2 separate regions of the Homo sapiens genome follow, and region 1 is linked to region 2. Evidence: fine-mapped expression QTL. A gene starts in region 2. The other region holds a variant in brackets. All regions are shown on one strand. Distances are between the middles of the regions. Region 1 overlaps MFN2 (mitofusin 2). Region 2 holds the start of KIAA2013.

The links. PIP is the estimated chance that this variant, and not a neighbour inherited with it, causes the effect.
Region 1: its variant is the best candidate, but not a certain one, in a credible set for the expression of KIAA2013 in whole blood (TOPMed, PIP 0.64).

What each region holds. Positions count from the first base shown.
Region 1 is chr1:11,990,893-11,996,261 of GRCh38, reverse strand. It overlaps MFN2 (mitofusin 2), which reads right to left. Exons shown (of 19, transcript NM_014874.4): 4 at 3,572-3,707; 5 at 1-106. Among named protein-coding and RNA genes, the nearest start is that of MFN2, 13 kb to the right of the region's middle. The variant G/A (reference allele first, on the strand shown) is at 3,219.
Region 2 is chr1:11,923,938-11,929,306 of GRCh38, reverse strand. KIAA2013 reads left to right here and starts at 2,880. Exons shown (of 3, transcript NM_138346.3): 1 at 2,880-4,102. The coding sequence starts at 3,070. RefSeq lists enhancers at 2,661-2,955, 2,610-3,273, 3,274-3,936 and a silencer at 2,956-3,025.

The DNA of each region.
Region 1 (5,369 bases), 67 kb before region 2:
TGTGCCCTCTACCCGCAGGAAGCAATTGGTGGTGTGGCCAATCCCAGAGGGCAGAACTTTGTCCCAGAGCATGGCATTGATCACGGTGCTCTTCCCATTGCTCGTCCTAGAAGGAAGTAACAGCTGTCAGCAAAGCCACCAGTATCTGACCTGAATTACTTTCACAACGCAGATACCAGCCTGGAAGGCCAAAGCCCTATTCAGTGCAATGTTGCCAGTGCCCAGACAGTGCTGAGAGACAAAGAGTAGGCACTGTTTATTAAAATGAATAAACACCCCCAGGCCCAAACCTCTGACATGCCCCTGGTTCATCATTTCAGATCAATCTACAAGAGGCTCACTGCGTGCTGTCTGCCCCTTGAATCACACAGCCACCCTCAGCAACACTTATAGAGACTGTCTGTCTGTCTCCAAAGTTTAATTCAGGCCTACCTGAAACACCGACTAACCCCCAGAGTGTCTTCCTCAGTCTAAATGACCCCAGTGTTTCCTACACAGGGCATGTTTCGCTGCTTTTCTCCCATCACGCTCCTCCTTACACATGAAGCTCCACCTTGTGAGTCCCAGCTGACAACTGCCAGGCTAAAGGGAAGGTTACTTTCTCATTCTTTTTTTTTTTATTGTTATTTGAGACAGAGTCTCACTCTGTCGCCCAGGCTGGAGTGCAGTGGCACGATCTCAGCTCATCGCAACCTCTGCCTCCTGAGTTCAAGCAATTCTCCTGCCTCAGCCTCCCAAGTAGCTGGGACTACAGGCATGTGCCACCATGCCCGGCTAATTTTTGTATTTTGAGTAGAGACAGGGTTTCACCATGTTGGCCAGACTGGTCGCGAACTCCTGACCTCAGGTGATTTGCCTGCTTCAACCTCCCAAAGTGCTGGGATTACAGGCATGAGCCACCATGCCCAGCCTACTTTCTCATTCTTACCTATCACACCCCTTTCATGTATTCTGGTGGGGTTTTTTGTTGTTGTTGTTGTTGTTTGTTTTTTTTGATATGGGATTTTGCTTTCTCGCCCAAGCTGGAGTGCAGTAGCGTGTGGCATGAATATAGCTCACTGCAGCCTCGACCATCAGGGCTCAATGATCCTCCCACCTCAGCCTCCCAAGTAGCTTAGACTATAGGTACCACCTATATATAGACTATAGCTGCGACCACGCCCAGCTAATTTTTAAATTTTTGGTAGAGATGGGGTCTTGCCATGTTGCTCAGGCTGGTCTCAAACTCCTGGGCTCAAGCAATTCTCCTGCCTCAGCCTCCCAGTGCTGAGATTACAGGTGTGAACCACTGCACCCCACCATTTCTGCTTCTTGAGAATAGCTCTGCTCAGCAGACTCATCTGCTCTGAGTCTCAGAGCTTTCAACCTGTGCTAAACACAGTGTTTCTCATTCTGAGTTGAAGTTTCTCAGCCATATCACTAGAGCAGAACTACAATGACCTTACCTGCACCCAGTGAGACAGGAAGCCCACTAGCTCACCTAAGTAGGGGGTCATACCTCCCAGGTGAGGATGAAGAAATGATAGTTCAGAGGAGTAGAGGACCACACCTGAGGTTACAGTTCATCAGGGTCAAGACTCTAGGCACAGTGCCTATTCCCCAGGCTACCACTGTGTGCCTAGCATACAATCTGTCTAGATGCCTTTTTTCTTGTATTAGATTTTTTTTTTTTGAGACGGAGTCTCACTCCGTCACCTAGGCTGGAGTGCAGTGGCGCGATCTTGACTCACTGCAACCTCCACCTCCTGGGTTCATGCCATTCTCCTGCCTCAGCCTCCCAAGTAGCTGGGACTACAGGCGCCCGCCACCACACCCAGCTAATTTTTTTTGTATTTTTAGTAGAGATGGGGTTTCACCGTGTTAGCCAGGATGGTCTCAATCTCCTGACCTTGTGATCTGCCTGCCTTGGCCTCCCAAAGTGCTGGGATTACAGGCGTGAGCCACCGTGCCTGGTCATTATACAAGTTATAAATGTTTGGCCTAGTACTTTAGGTACATTGTGGCTTCACAAGGGCCAGTGTTAAAACTGCTTCCATGTCAAAGCAAAGAAAACTGCCTACATATTGGTTTGTCCTGGTGGGGAATAAAAAGGATCATTGGTTCCAGTCACAGGTATAGTAAATGTGGGTACTTTAAGGTTTGGAGCACTTACAAGGCTGTGGTAGAAACAGATACCCCATGGTTATCACATGTTAAACCATGTGTGTCTGTGGAATACTCAATCTCAATGTGCACACCTTTGACTACAGCTGTGGAAGTGTTCCTTTAAACAAAGTTGTGACCCATTTCAATCTGGATAAGGGCAGAAATGGTTCACACTCCATTATTTGTAAAGTTATCTGCTGTTAGCTTTCATTATTTTTGCTACACTCATTTTATTTGTATTTAAAATGTTTCAGGCAACCTAAGAACAAATGTAAAAGTAAAGATGCAGGAAAAATGAATACTTCATGTATATCAAGCTAGCAGTAAAACAAAACAAAAAAAACACGTATTTAACTTATTTTTAGATTTTTTTTTTTTTTTTTGAGATGGAGTCTCACTGTCGCCCAGGCTGGAGTGCAGTGGCCCGATCTCGGCTCACTGCAGGCTCCGCCCCCTGGGGTTCACACCATTCTCCTGCCCTAGCCTCCCAAGTAGCTGGGACTACAGGCGCCCGCCACCTCACCCGGCTAATTTTTTGTATTTTTAGTAGAGATGGGGTTTCACTGTGTTAGACAGGATGGTCTCGATCTCCTGACCTCGTGATCCACCTGCCTCGGCCTCCCAAAGTGCTGGGATTACAGGTGTGAGCCACCATGCCCGGCATATTTTTAGATTCTTTGCTTTTGTGATTTTTTTTTGATGCTTGCCTAACATGCATGCACTGTAAAAATAGTTAACAGGGAAATAACTTGAGATGATGGCTAGCTTTGTTTAATGTCTTACGAAATTTTCATGAACAATACAAGCACAATTGTTAAGAACACGTGTATTAAATTCATGTAAGTGGAATAAAAGTTTTATGAATGGAGAAAAAAAAACAAATACTGTATGATTCCACTTACGTGAGACATCTAGAATAGTCAAATTCATAGGGACAGAAAGTAGAATGGTGGTGGCCAGGGCAAGGGACATGTGGGACAGGGAGTTATTGTTTAATGGCTATAATACAAGCTTCAGTTCTGCAAGATGAAAAAGCTCTTGAGACTGGTTGCAAATATACCTACTAGTGAATT[G/A]TATGCTTAAAATGGTTAAGGTGGTAAATTTTATATTATATGCCTTTAACCTTAATTAGAAAATAAAAAAAAAAAAGTCAGGCTTGATGGCATGCACCTGCAGTCCCAGCTGCTCAGGAGGCTCAGGTGGGAGGATCACCTGAGCCCAGGGAGGTCGAGGCTGTAATGAGCTTCCAGCCTGGGTGACAGAGAACCCTGTCTCAAAAATCAAATAAATAAATAAAATATAAATTAAGAGGAAAGCAATGAATTCTGAAGCATGTCCCTGCCTGGAACGTTCTGTGACCTTGCACAAAGTGCCTCCCTCCCTCCTAGCCAGGAAGAAAGAAAGGGTGGGTGCCTCAAGGACTTACCGGCCAAAAAAAGCCACTTTCATGTGCCTCCGAGCCAGCACCTCACTGATGCCTCTCACTTTGGATAGGTAACCTTTGACGTCCAGAACCTGTTCTTCTGTGGTAACGGGGTCCAGTTCTGCATTCCTGTACGTGTCTGGAGGTGGGGATTGAAAATGGGTCACCACGTGGTCAGAGGAGTTCCACAGTCCCAAGTCTGGAAGGGCCAGAGCGCCGGCCCTGCTTACCCTAAACGAGTCCACCTCTGGCACCCTGCAGCCGACAGGCTGAGCTCCAGATCCTCTATGGTGGCCCCACGGTGTGGTGGTTAAGAAGATGGCTCAGGAGCAACACTGCCTGGTTCTGAAGCTGGTTCTTACCACTTTCTAGCTCTGTGGCCTCAAGCAAAAGAACCTTTCTGGGTCTTAGTTTCCTTAAGCACAAAACGGAGATAACTACATTATCTACTTCATGAGAACATCGTGAGGATCAAACGAATTGAAACACAAATGCTGTGAATGGCGGCTGGTAGAAGATGAATACTTAAATGTTAACTGCCTTCCTTGTTTATTTTTTCTTAACAAATATTTACGAAGTTCTTACCACATGCCAGGCACTGTTCCTTTCACTTTTCAAATTCATTCTCTCCTTTGGTCCTCTTTATTAACATGGCTCCGGAGTTAGTAAAAGGCAGAGCTATGATTTGAATTAGGCAGCCTGGCTCTGGAGTCCAGGCTCTTAACCACTCTATGTCACTTCTTTTTTTTTTTTTTTTTTTTTTTTTTTTTGAGACGGAGTCTCGCTCTGTCGCCCAGGCTGGAGTGCAGTGGCGGGATCTGGGCTCACTGCAAGCTCCGCCTCCCGGGTTCACGCCATTCTCCTGCCTCAGCCTCCCAAGTAGCTGGGACTACAGGCGCCCGCCACTACGCCCGGCTAATTTTTTGTATTTTTAGTAGAGACAGGGTTTCACCGTTTTAGCCGGGATGGTCTCGATCTCCTGACCTCGTGATCCGCCCGCCTCGGCCTCCCAAAGTGCTGGGATCACAGGCGTGAGCCACCGCGCCCGGCCTCTATGTCACTTCTTGAGGCCCTCCCTGCCCTGGCCCTGTTGGCCTCTTGCCACCCGCTGCCTCACGGTCTCCCTCACCATATCCCCAAACTCACCAGCTTCCTCGGCCCTCTGGCTCCATTCCCTGCTGCCCAAACCCCCTCCCCACTCTCTGAAGAACTGACACACTACACTGCCTTGGGGCAGCGTGGCTCATTCTCACTTGGCCTCCGGTCTAGCTTAGACAGCACTGCCCCCAGGAAGCCTTCTCTGACCACCCCTCTAACCTGAGTCAGGACCCCGGACCCCTTCTCTGTGTGCCCCAGCACCCTGCACTTCTCCCATCTCAGCTCTCACCTCACCATAAGGTAACTGTACAGCTCACCTGTCTGTGTCATCTGCCTCATGAGGGCCACACTATCTGACCCCAGCACCCAGCAGGTGCACAAATGTTTGCTACGTGAGCAGACCTTTGGATCACTGCACTGCTTTTTCCCAGTGCCCTTAACAGGCAGATGGCCAACAAATTACTCCATACAGGAGCAACTGAGTGAGATCCCACCACTGTCCTGTCTAGAACTCGCACCAGACAGGTGCTTCAGCTGGCTGGAACACAGACGGGTGTTTAGCCCCTCTGCACACTCCTGGGAACTATGAGGCTGACAGGCCCCAGCCCTGAGAACACTCCGAAAGCATCTGAAGCATGACAAGGGCCTGCCCAGTGAATTTCCCCCACAGCCAGCGCCATGAAAGGAAATGACCAAGTCAACA
Region 2 (5,369 bases):
ACTCCCTGAACCTAAAATAAAAATTGAAAAAAAAAAATAAAGAAGGTTAAGTGTGGTGGCTCACACCTGTAATCCCAGCACTCTGGGAGGCCAAGGTAGGAGGACTGCTTGAGTTCAGGAGCTCAAGACCAGCCTGGGCAATGTGGCAAAAACCTGCCTCTCCAAAAAATACCAAAAAAAAAAAAAAAATTAGCTGGGCATAATGGTGACGGCCTATAGTTCTAGCTACTTGGGAGGCTGAGTTGGGAGGATCACTTAAGCCTGGGAGATGGAGGTTGCAGTGAGCTGTGATCGTGCCACTGCACTCCAGCCTGGGCAACAGAGTGAGACCCTCTCTCTAAATAAATAAATAAATAAATAGGACTGGGGGTGGTGGCTCACACCTGTAATCCCAGAACTTTGGGAGGCCACGGTGGGCAGATCACAAGTAAGGAGTTCCAGACCAGCCTGGCCAACATGGTGAAACTCCATCTCTACTAAAAATACAAAAATTAGCCAGGTGTGGTGGCAGGTTCCTGTAATCCCAGCTACTCGGGAGGCTGAGGCAGGAGGACTGCTTGAACCCAGGAGGTGGAGGTTGTGGTGAGCCGAGATCGCGCCACTATACTCCAGCCTGGGCAACAAGAGTGAAACTCCGTCTCAATAAATAAATAAATAAATAAGGCAGGCGCAGTGGCTCACGCCTGTAATCCCAGCACTTTGGGAGGCTGAGGCAGTTGGATCATCTGAGGTCAGGAGTTTGAGACCATGCTGGCCAATGTTGTGAAACCTGGTCTCTACTAAAAACACAAAAATTAGCCAGGTGTGTTGGCTGTAATCCTAGCTTCTTGGGAGGCTGAGGCATGACAACTGCTTGAACCTAGGAGGCAGAGGTTGCAGTGAGCTGAGATTGCACCACTGCCCTTTAGCCTGGGGGACAAAGTGTGACTCTGTCTCAAAAAAATAAAAAATAAAAAAAAATAAAAAAAATAAAAAAAATAAAAATGGTAAGCAGACTGTAGGACCACCTGGACAGTTCCTTCTAAAGGGCACTGGCCTCAGCAAACATTTCTGTGTCTGCTCACAGCCCACCAGAGGCCACCTCAAATGACCGTTTAATTTCCAACAACTGGGAAGCACTGTCTGGCTTTGGAATGTACTGAAACCAAAGTGGAAACAATCACCCATTGTCTGCCTCTGTGCTTATATTGAATTTTTTTCCCAAAATACAAAGCAATATTTATCTTTTGCATCGATGATTCACAATTTAAAGCCATTTTCAAAGTATGAGACGTTAGTGTCTTATGTTATTTAATAAGTTAAAACTTAGGACTGACATCAAGAAGACGATTTGGTGTAGTGGAGACATTGATGGCCCTTGGCTGGATTTGTGTCCACGTGTGGTGTGCATGCAGCTAGACAGGTCTGTTAACAAAATATTTTTGGGGAAGTCTAGTTTCTGGTGGTTAGTTTTTATTTTATTTTTTATTTTTTTAGACGGAGTCTCGCTCTGTTGCCCAGGCTGGAGTGCAGTGGCGCGATCTCGGCTCACTGCAACCTCTGCCTCCCTGGTTCAAGCGATTCTCGTGCCTCAGTCTCTCAAGTAGCTGGGATTACAGGCGCCCACCACCACGCCCAGCTAATTTTTGCATTTTTATTTTTTTATTTTTATTTATTTATTTTTTTTTTTTTGAGACAGAGTCTCCCTCTGTCACCCAGGCTGGAGTGCAGTGGCGCGATCTTGGCTCACTGCAAGCACCGCCTCCCGGGTTCACGCCATTCTCCTGCCTCAGCCTCCCGAGTAGCTGGGACTACAGGCGCCTGCCACCACGCCTGGCTAATTTTTTATATTTTTAGTAGAGACAGGGTTTCACCGTGTTAGCCAGGATGGTCTCGATCTCCTGATCTCGTGATCTGGCGGCCTCGGCCTCCCAAAATGCTGGGATTACAGGCGTGAGCCACCGTGCCCAGCCTAATTTTTGTATTTTTAGTAGAGACAGGTTTTCACCATGTTGGTCAGGCTGGTTTCGAACTCCTGACCTCAAGTGATTTGCCCATCTCAGCCTCCTAAAGTGCTGGAATTACAGACGTGAGCCACCACTCCTGGCCTCTGGTGGTTCCCCTTCCCCTCCTCCTCCCTTTTCCTTTCTTCTTCTTTCTTCCTCTTCTTCTCTCTCCTTTTTTTTTCCTCCACTTTTTCGTATTGTTCCAAGTGTTTTTTTGCAGTGAGGATAGTCTTTTTTTTTTTTTTTTTTTTTGAGACAGAGTCTCACTCTGTCGCCCAGGCTGGAGTGCAGTGGCGTGATCTCGGCTCACTGCAAGCCTGCAACCTCCGCCTCACGGGTTCAAGCAGTTCTCCTACCTCAGCCTCCTGAGGAGCAGGGATTACAGGCATGCGCCACCACGCCCGGCTAGTTTTTGTATTTTTAGTAGAGATGGGGTTTCACCATGTTGGTCAGGCTGGTCTCAAACTGCTGACCTCGTGATCCGCCCGCCTTGGCCTCCCAAAGTGCTGGGATTACAGGCGTGAGCCACCGCGCGCGGCGAGAGGATGGTCATTTTTACAGAAACAAAGTTGTTGTGTGTGTGTGTGTGTATGTTTTTAAATTTTGGGGCTGTTGAATCCATCAGTAGCAAAGGGGCCCAACACGTGTTCGGTTTGGCTGGCTCGATGTTTTTTTCACGAGTGAATTGGATGCTTCCAGTCCTCCCCAGACCCCTGCACTTAACTCCACTGGACTTCACTCTTCCGGCCTGGGAACGAGTGGTCCCGCCCCCGGCAGCTTTTGTCCCGCCCTCGCCGTGGCTCCGCCCCCTTCTCTCCGGCCTGCTCTCTCTCCTCCCTCCGCCCTCCCGTTTTCCATCTGTCGTAAAAGACACGGCGACGCTTGACCGCCGGCGTCGTTTGACGGCTGGAGGCCACCGAGAAGAAGGAGGAAGCAGGGGTGGCGGCTGCTGCGGCGGTTGCGGCGGGGGCCGGGGTGGGCGCCGCGGTCCGGGCCGGGCAGTGAGGCGCGGGCGGCCGGGCCGGTGGGCTGGGCGGCGGGCCCGGCGGCCGCCCTCGCACCCTTGCCCGCGCCTGGCGGCCCGATGTGGCTGCAGCAGCGGCTCAAGGGGCTGCCGGGACTGCTGTCGAGCAGCTGGGCCCGCCGCCTCCTCTGCCTGCTTGGCCTCCTGCTGCTGCTTCTGTGGTTTGGGGGGTCCGGCGCGCGGCGGGCGGCGGGCGGCCTGCACCTGCTGCCCTGGTCCCGCGGTGAGCCGGGCGCCGCCGAGCCGTCTGCCTGCCTGGAGGCGGCCACCCGCGCCTGGCGCGGCCTGCGGGAGCGCGGTGAGGTGGTACCGCTGGGTCCTGGAGTGCCGGCCCTGGTGGCCAACGGCTTCCTGGCCCTGGACGTGGCTGCCAATCGGCTGTGGGTGACTCCCGGGGAGCGGGAGCCCGCCGTGGCGCCGGACTTTGTGCCCTTCGTGCAGCTGCGCCCGCTGAGCGCGCTGGCTGAAGCTGGAGAGGCGGTGCTGCTGCTGCGGGAGGGGCTTCTGCGCCGCGTGCGTTGCCTGCAGCTGGGGTCCCCAGGTCCTGGCCCCGTGGCCGCCGGCCCCGGGCCCGCCTCCGTCTCTGGCCTTGCCGCGGGGTCCGGCCGCGACTGCGTGCTGCTGCAAGAGGACTTTCTGGCGCACAGGGGCCGACCCCACGTCTACCTGCAGCGCATCCAGCTCAACAACCCCACGGAGCGCGTGGCCGCGCTGCAGACTGTGGGGCCCACTGCCGGCCCAGCCCCCAAGGCCTTCACCAGTACCCTGGAGAAGGTCGGAGACCATCAGTTCCTCCTCTACTCAGGCCGGTCCCCGCCTACGCCCACTGGGTTGGTGCACCTGGTGGTGGTGGCCGCCAAGAAGCTGGTGAACCGCCTCCAAGTGGCTCCCAAGACGCAGCTGGATGAGACGGTGCTGTGGGTGGTGCACGTCTCTGGCCCCATTAACCCCCAGGTGCTCAAAAGCAAAGCAGCCAAGGAGCTCAAGGCGCTGCAGGACTTGGCACGGAAGGAAATGCTGGAGCTCTTGGACATGCCAGCGGCGGAGCTGCTTCAAGACCACCAGCTCCTCTGGGCTCAGCTCTTCAGCCCAGGTGAGTCCTGGCCAGCGCTTGGTCCACCCTAGATATGTCCCTCCCAAGTCTGCAGAGGTGACACTGAAGGTGATGGTGGGGTGGTTGAAACTTGGGCTTGGCGTTTCACCAGTGGTTGAATCTGCTCAACTGCTTAGTGTCTGTGCGACCTTTGGATTCGTCGCCTAATCTCTCTGGGCCTGTATTTAATAACAATAACGCCTACCTCAGAAGGTTTTTATGAGACTGTAGTGGACAATTGAGTGTAAAGGTCAATTCTTTCTGTTACTTGTTTTGGTAGATGGGGCCTGATGTGAGCAGAGTGAAGTGTTTTAGAGTCAGTTTGCAGAGGTGAAACCAGCAGGTGGATCCCCTGATTCTTTGCTCAGCACCGCAGTCGGCCTGGTGACAGACGTGGGCTTCTTGACATAACCCCTGCTAGGCTGAGGTGCGTCCTGGCAGTTGTGGCTGCAACTGGTTCACAGGGAGGTTGGAGAATCCCTTTTAGCAGGTTGAGATGCTCCCGCCCGATGAAAACTCTCCTCTCGTTGACTGTTAAAGAAAAGAAAATCCTGTTCTGGATGAGAGAGGGGTTTTGGTTTCCAGGGTTCCAATTGTCTGAACCTTTGTGTTTGGTTGCTCAGAGAGTTGAGTTCATTCAGCAAGTATCTATTGAATGCTTCTGCCAGGGCTGTTCTATGCATGGGGGGGTGCAGATGGGAACCAGAGTTCCTGTTCTCATGGTGCTTGCTTAAATTCTGGTTGGGAGGAAGACAGACATTAGAAAAGTGAAAATTAAAATTAAAATAAGGCATCTTTTTAGGCTAGAATGTGCTGGCTGGGCGCGGTGGCTCACGCTGTAATCCCAGCACTTTGGGAGGCTGAGGCAGGTGGATCACCTGAGGTCAGGAGTTCAAGCCAACCTGGCCAACGTGGCGAAACCTTGTCTCTACTAAAAATACAAAACTTAACCTGACCTCATGATCCGTCCACCTTGGCCTCCCAAAGTGCTGGGATTACAGGCGTGAGCCACCGCGCCCGGCGAGAGGATGGTCATCTTCACAGAAACAAAGTTGTGTGTGTGTATGTTTTTAAATCTTAGGGCTGTTGAATCCATCAGTAGCAAAGGGGCCCAGCACGTGTTTATTCAGCAAGTGTCTATTGAATGCTTCTGCCAGGGCTGTTTTAGGCATGGGTGGTGGCCTGCACCTGTAGTCCCAGCTACTCAAAGGCTGAGACGGGAGAATCACTTGAACCCGGGAGGCGGAGGCTGTAGTAACCTGAGATC